Homo sapiens: one gene and its partner. The protein of the gene in region 1 interacts with the protein of each later gene in a pairwise test. Each region holds a gene or a part of one and is shown on either strand. Other genes may lie near its edges.

Region 1 (3,811 bases):
GGGAAAAAAAAAAAAATTTCAGATGTCCATCATCTGTTTGAAGCCTCCTTCCCTGCCTCCATCCCCAGCTATGAGCTCCACAGGGCAAGAAGCAAAGCTTTGTTCCCCACTGCATCCCCTGCACCCAGGTACACTGTAGATGCTCAATAAATGTACACTGAATGAATGAACTGGGGGCAGAAGGCAAGCAGGCCAGCACCTCCCAGAGGCCACCTCCTGGGCTGTGCCCCCCTTATGTAGGAAGTAGGCCCGCTGGCCACCCTGACCACCAGGGCCTCAGGCTGGTGCCTCACCATCAAACTGGTACTGGATGATGTTGTTGAAGACCTCCAGGAGGAAGAAGACCAGGTGGTGGTTCTGGGCGGCAGAGAAGAGGAACCAGGTGGTGGAGAAGGCCTCCAGCAGGTGCAGCAACTTGTTGGCAGTCACCATGGACAGGCTCTTGAGGTAGGGGGACACTGTAAGGGAGGGGTCAGCTCACTCCTGGGCCCCTCAGCCAAGCCATCCCTGCACATCCTGGGCCGGGGTGGAACAACAGGCTCCTGCTCTCAATCCCTCCCTGCCCCCTGCAGAGCCAGGACGACCAAGGCCCTAAGAGGCTGAGTCCACACTGGCCATACTGTGTGCAGAGTCCTGGGAGGCAGTTAGGCCCCACCCTCACCCCTCGACCATGAAGACAGCTGTCCTGCTTATAAAGCCATACACATCCCACCCATGCCAGTCCCCCCCATACCACGAGGGAGGCAGGACACAGACAAGATCATCCCCATTTTACAGACATGGAAACTGAGGCTCAGAGAAGGTTGTAAACTTGGCCCAAGTTCCCCAGTAATGAAATGATCGGGCAGGGATACAAACTCAAGACTTTAAATCTTTCTAGAACGTCAAGCTGCCATGTCACTAGAGGTGTATTTTGGGACCCAACCCTGGGGGCACACCCAGACTGAAGTTCCATGCTGATCTGAACACTTCCTTGTCTTGTGTCATTTTCCCTCACTAGGCTGAGGGCTCCACAGGGCAGGGACCAGGGCTGTCTTGGTCACAAGTGTGTTCTCGGAACCAGCTCAGTTAAGATTTGTGAGATGGAGCCAGAGAGTGAACCAGGAGGGGAAGGGACAGTCCTGACCCCAAAGCTCACAGCCCAGCTAGAGGCCTCTACCACCGCACACTACCCACCCTGCAGTCTAAACCAGAACACAGACAGACCAGCCACCCCTAGCCACAACCATCCTCTCCAAAAGATGTTCACACTGAAGGCATTTTGCCCCAGCCCATGGCCACCTGCCTTGCTAGGTCCTGAACCCCAGGGAGCCTGGCTCCTTCTGCTTCCTCTCCCCAGCAGCTGTGTGCAGTCCTTGCTGGGTGGGGGTAGGGGCTGGACAGGGAGGACAAAGGCAGAAAGGGTGGGGCCTCCACATCCCCATACACTGTGACTCCAAATGTCCAAACCTGCACTGCCCAACACAGTGGACATCAGCCACGTGTGGCCATTTCGTGCTTGAAACACAGCTAGTCCTAACACGTGTGCTGCACATATGAAACACACAAGAGGCCAGACACAGTGGCTCACGCCTGTATAATCCCAGCACTTTGGGAGGCTGAGGCAGGAGGATCATTTGAGCTCAGGAGTTCAGGACAAGCCTGGGAAACATAGTGAGATCCCGTCACTATAATTAGAAATAAAATGAAATATGGCCGGGTGTGGTGGTTCACACCTGTAACCCCAGCGCTTTGGGAGGCCAAGGCAGGCAGATTGCTTGAGGCCAGGACTTCAAGACCAGCCTGGCCAACATGGCAAAACTCTGTCTCTACTAAAAATACAAAAAAAAAAAAAAAATTAGCCAGTTGTGGTGGCACATGCTGTGATCCCAGCTACTTGGGAGGCTGAGGCATGAGGATCACTTAACCTGGGAGGTTGCAGTGAATGGAGATTGTGCCACTGCACTCTAGCCTGAGCAACAGAGAGTGAGACTCTGTCTTAAAAATAAAAAATAAAATAAAATAAAATAAATAAATAAATAAAGTAAAAATGTTATCGGACTACCAGTGGCTCCCATAAACTGGGCTAACCTCCTTCAGATGTCAAAAAAAATTGTTAAATTTTTTTTTTTTAAAAAAAGGCCAGATGCAGTGGCTCATGCCTGTAATCCCAGCACTTTGGGAGGCTGAGGTGGGCATATCATCTGAGGTCAGGAGTTCGAGACCAGCCTGGACAACATGGCAAAACCCCGTCTCTACTAAAGATACAAAAATTAGCCAGGTGTGGTGGCACACGCCTGTAATCCCACCTACTCAGGAGGCTGAGGCATGAGAATTGCTTGAACCCAAGGGGCGGAGGTTGCAGTGAGCTGAGATGGTGCCACTGCACTCCAGCCTGGGCGACAAGACTGAGTGTGAGAAGGGAATATTAAATATCTCATTAGTAATTTTCATATTGGCTACATGTTGAGATGATGATAGATAAAACATATTATTCAATTGTTGTCACCCTTTTTTTTTAATGTGGCTACTATGAAGGGTACACAAGCTTGCGTTCTTTCTGTGGGCTGGAGGGGCTTGAAACCTGGAGCAAGTGGCAGGTTGGCCTGTGGCCTGACACCACCTGGTGGTGAGCGCGGGGAGTGCAAGCTCCGGGCCCCTACCGTTGACCACGATGGTGAGCAGGCAGTCGAAGAGGGGCTGCAACCGCTGGTGCCCGCTGGTGATGATCTTGTGGAACACCTGTGCCAGGAGGGACAGAGGCACCGTGGGGTCCCCGCTGCCTCCAGACTCAGCCAAGAGGACACCACCCCTGCACCTCCTGGGCCCGGCCGCACGAGCCCCCTCACCACAATGAGCAGGTCGGCGTGGGTCCCTGTGAAGACTGGGATGTCCATGGGCACGCGGATTGAGTAGGGTTTGTTCAGCCGCACCCCGAAGTTCCGCTCCCCGCTCAGAAGCAGCAAGATGAAGACACCAATGTGCATCAGGCCCACCCGAGCTGCGGCAGGTGGCGTGGGAGGGGTCACTCGGGTGGGAGGGGGAAGGAGGGGCCCAGGCAGTGACCATTTTGGAGGCCTCCCTCCTAGGAGGTCAGAGTGCCAGGCCTGAGCTCCTGGGAGTCAGGGCAGATAGCCAGCCCTCCACCTCGCCGCCAGGAAAGCCCCCAGCATCCCACCCCCACCCTGGTCTTACACTGATCGGCCCGGGCATCGTTGAGGAAGAAGAGGATGGGGACAAGGATGTCTAGGACGTCGCTGCTCTTCAGCACGAAGAAGAGGAATTTCTAGGGGTGCGGGGAGGGGCCAAGTGGGCTGAGTTCAAGGGAGGGGCAGCTCTGCCCCACCCCCCTCAGTCTGACACTGTCCCTGCCCCCGGGTTATTGGGGCAGCTGCTCTCCATCTCCCTGCAGGGCCCCTCGAGGCTGGCCCACCTTGTTGAAGTCGCAGAGCTTCCAGAAGAGAACTAGCAGCTCCTGGTGGAACTGGATCTTCTTGGTGGAGTTAGGCAGGTAGGTCTGGAGCAGGGGGTTGGACAGCAGCCGGGCTATACCCTTGAGGATGAACTGGAAGTCCTGGGGGCGAGGGCAGAGCAGGGGGCCTGTCCAGCCCAATCCCTGCAGCTCCAGTTTCCCAGCCCAGGCCCCCAACAAATCCCCCCCTCCATCCCCCAGAGCCAGATCCCACCTCCAGAGCCAGAGGGCCCAGATGCTATCACCCATAGCTGTCCTGGGGCGATGCCTCAGGAAGCGGAGTCCCTCATAGCTGTGGACAGCCCTGGCCCCTCCACTAGACTGCAGACTCTCTGTCCTTGGGCTGTGCGCCCCTTGAGC
Region 2 (3,383 bases), on another chromosome or scaffold:
AACTGTTGGAGAAGGGAGCCCTGGGAGCCCTGAGTGCCGCAGGCTTCTGTGGCCCTGGCAGCTCGGCCCAGAGTCAATGGACTAGGGCCAGCCAGGGGACTTTCCGACAAGGGCCAGCTGGTGGTATTTTAGGTCTTGGGGGCCGTGCCGTCTCTGTTATGAGCACGCAGCCCTGACGTGCTTGAAAGCAGCCACAGACGGTGGTGACAAGCGTGGACATGCTCCAGGAAGACTTGATTTGGGGACCCTGACATTGGAATTTGCATCTTTTTTTTTTTCTGAGATGTTCAAACACAAGTAAATGTGAGATTAAGAGGGGGATCCCTCCTACCCAAGCTTGGGGGTGGGTCCAGGACCCTGGAAGGCCTCCATTTGCCATGGGGAGGCTGTGAATCTGAGCCTGAGAGCCATTCTGAGGGGTGGGTGATACCTACCTGCAGGCCCCCCCACCACGCCTGCCCAGGCCTGGTCCTGCGCTGCAGAGCCAAGGACGGGAGATGGGGTTAGACTTGGGGCCCTCACGGACCAGCCTCAGCCACCGAGCGCTCACCCCCTGCACACAGGCCTGGTGGGTGGGCAGGCTCCAGGCTCCAGGGCCCCTCCCAACTCTTCCTGTGGGCCCCAGGCCCAGGGCTGCCATCTATGACCCAAAACCTGCGAGCGACTCTCCTGGCCTGTGGGGATGTGGTGGGGACGCCCGGGGATGCGCTCAGGAGTTGCAAAACCTCATGAGCTTGCTGGGAGCGGGGCTCTGAGGACAGCCCATCAGTGGCTCCTGTGAGACCCACATGAGGCTTCCATTCAGAGCAGCCCTCCGAATGCCAGGGTCAGGACTTGAAACCCTTCTAGATGTTTCTGGGCTTGTCCCTGAGAATCCCCAAGACTGCTGGCCTCCCCGGAGGCAAGGGGCCTGGACTCCTGAGCCTCTGCATGCTGGACAAAGGGCCCTACCCAGTGTGGCCTGATGAGGGGTCCCTGCAGGAATCACAGGTACAGCCCACCAGCCCAGGGCATGTGGGAGGCCCAGGCATAAAGACTGGGTGTCACTGAAGGTCGGCACCACCCACTCCCCTAACACCCCGCAGGGGATGGGGGGCCCAGCTGCTGCCCATGGCAGAGGCCAGGCTTGGTGGCCTGACCCCAGTGAGAACCCCACGCACAGAGCAGGGCCCCACTCACACTGGATCTGCTCGTGCACCACCAGGGCGAAGTGGTCCATCTCCAGGATGTGCGAGAGCCTGCCCAGCGTGTCCGTGAGGCGGATCTGCAAGGGAAGCGTGGTCAGTGGCAGGGGGAACATGGCCCCACGAGTTTTCTGTGGAGTGAGAGGGGATGCGATGGTGGGTCCTGCAAAGCCCACCCGGGAGGCAGTGGCAGCCGAACGTGGGAAATACGTGGATTCGGGTGACGTCTCGGGTGTGTGTGTGAGATGGGAAAGAAGTCGAATTCACTCCTAGGTTTGGGCAGAACCCTCAGCCTTTCCAGTGTCAAGAGCCACACCTGCATGTCCCAGGGGATCCGTGTGGAAGGTCACACAAACTTTCCTGGGCCACCCTCAGGGCAGCAGAGGGTGGGTGTCTCAGGACAACCACGGAGTCTGACCAGCCCGGCAAGGAGCCACCGTGGGCTTCTCCCAGAATGTTCTAGCTCTTGTTGGATAACCAAGTGCATGCACAGGCAAATGAGGCTGGGCAGGAGAAAGACCCCGGCAGACGCCGCATGGTGCCCGGGACAGCCTCTGAGCGCGAATGACCTCCTTAAGTCCCCAAAACACGGCTGGTGTGGATGAGCCTGCACTGATGAGAGCCTGCTCTCCGGCTGCTGCACTTGTAAAGTGGGTGCTTCTCAGCTTCATGGTTTGAGGGGTGCAGCCAGCTTCGGCCTAAGTGGTGTTGAGGGTCGAGGACCCAGCACCCCCACACGGGAAGCGCGGTGTCCCGCCTTCGAGGCTGGAGTACTCTGGCACCCTCTGGGGTCCCGAAGTGCCTGAGTACCTGTTTGAGCCGCGTGTAGGTGACTGCGCACCTGTTTGAACTGCGTGTAGGTGACCGCGCACCTGTTTGAGCTGCCTGTAGCTGACCGGGCACCTGTTTGAGCTGCCTGTAGGTGACCGCGCACCTGTTTGAGCTGCCTGTAGGTGACTGGGCACCCGTTTGAGCTGCCTGTAGGTGACCGCGCACCCGTTTGAGCTGCCTGTAGGTGACCGGGCACCCGTTTGAGCTGCCTGTAGGTGACCGGGCACCCGTTTGAGCTGCCTGTAGGTGACTGGGCACCCGTTTGAGCTGCCTGTAGGTGACCGCGCACCCGCTTGAGCTGCCTGTAGCTGACCGCGCACCTGTTTGAGCTGCCTGTAGGTGACCGGGTACCTGTTTGAGCTGCCTGTAGGTGACCGCTCACCTGTTTGAGCTGCCTGTAGGTGACCGCGCACCTGTTTGAGCTGCGTGTAGGTGACCGGGCACCTGTTTGAGCTGCCTGTAGGTGACTGCGCATCTGTTTGAGCTGCCTGTAGGTGACTGGGTACCTGTTTGAACTGCTTGTAGATGACTTTGCCAACTTGGTCTGACGGCTGCACCTTCCCGGCAAGCAGGGACGAGAGCATGTTCCCAAGCGTCACCATTCCCAGGATTACCCTGTGGGACGGGGGCAGGCAGGGGTCAGCGCTCATACCTCACCCCTCCCAGGACGGTGGGGCACACGCTCAGCTGCCCCAGGGAGGAGCGCTCTCTGGCCACACATGGAAGTCCTCTGCCACGAGCCTACACGCGGCAGGAACCAGTCTGGGCCCTGGTGGGGAGAAAGAAACCAAGAGTCCTTGGACCCGTTCAGCCAGGGTCAAGGGTGACCAGCCGTCAGGTTTCCGCGACGTGGGGCTCTCAGTGGTCACTGGGCATGTGTGCCAAGGCTTTCTGCTGTCAGACATGTCCTCGGGGCATCTCTCCCCTGACCTCCAGGTGGGCCCAGGACAGCCTGCACACAAAGGGTGGGTGGGCTGAGGTCTGAGGGCCTGGAGTGAGCACGGCAGCCCTGCCCCAGGCTGCTCAGGGACCGGCAAGGGGCCTCCAATGCCCTGAACGTCTGTATGAGGCGGCCCAGGCGGGCCTATCAGCCCAGCTGCAGGGTCTGCATGGCTGCCCTGTCCAGTGACACTGACGGGGTGGAGCTGGGCAGACAGAACCCAGGACTGAGCTCTGAGCAGGGGCTGAGACTGACCCCGCCTCATCCACCACGGGCGCCTGGTCGAAGCCCTTCTCCCGGAGGATCTCGATGGTGTGCCCACAGGTGATGGTCGGGAGCACGGTCAGCGGGGCTGACAGGCCCAGCTCCTGAACACGGAGGTGCCACCACCTGAGGGAAGAGGGCAGGTCGGGGGGATCAGGATAAGG

The links.
Region 2: the proteins of HID1 (region 1) and CBS interact in a two-hybrid assay, tested with the Homo sapiens proteins (one large-scale study listed by BioGRID).

Annotation. Positions count from the first base shown.
Region 1 is NC_000017.11:74,955,499-74,959,309, forward strand, and holds part of HID1 (protein HID1), read right to left. Parts: intron 3,554-3,811; coding exon 3,413-3,553; intron 3,266-3,412; coding exon 3,175-3,265; intron 2,981-3,174; coding exon 2,829-2,980; intron 2,722-2,828; coding exon 2,643-2,721; intron 459-2,642; coding exon 294-458; intron 1-293. UniProt on the Homo sapiens protein: May play an important role in the development of cancers in a broad range of tissues.
Region 2 is NC_000021.9:43,055,624-43,059,006, forward strand, and holds part of CBS (cystathionine beta-synthase), read right to left. Parts: intron 3,346-3,383; coding exon 3,211-3,345; intron 2,785-3,210; exon of another isoform or gene 2,668-2,784; intron 2,631-2,667; coding exon 2,522-2,630; intron 1,265-2,521; coding exon 1,180-1,264; intron 477-1,179; coding exon of another isoform or gene 435-476; intron 1-434. UniProt on the Homo sapiens protein: Hydro-lyase catalyzing the first step of the transsulfuration pathway, where the hydroxyl group of L-serine is displaced by L-homocysteine in a beta-replacement reaction to form L-cystathionine, the precursor of L-cysteine.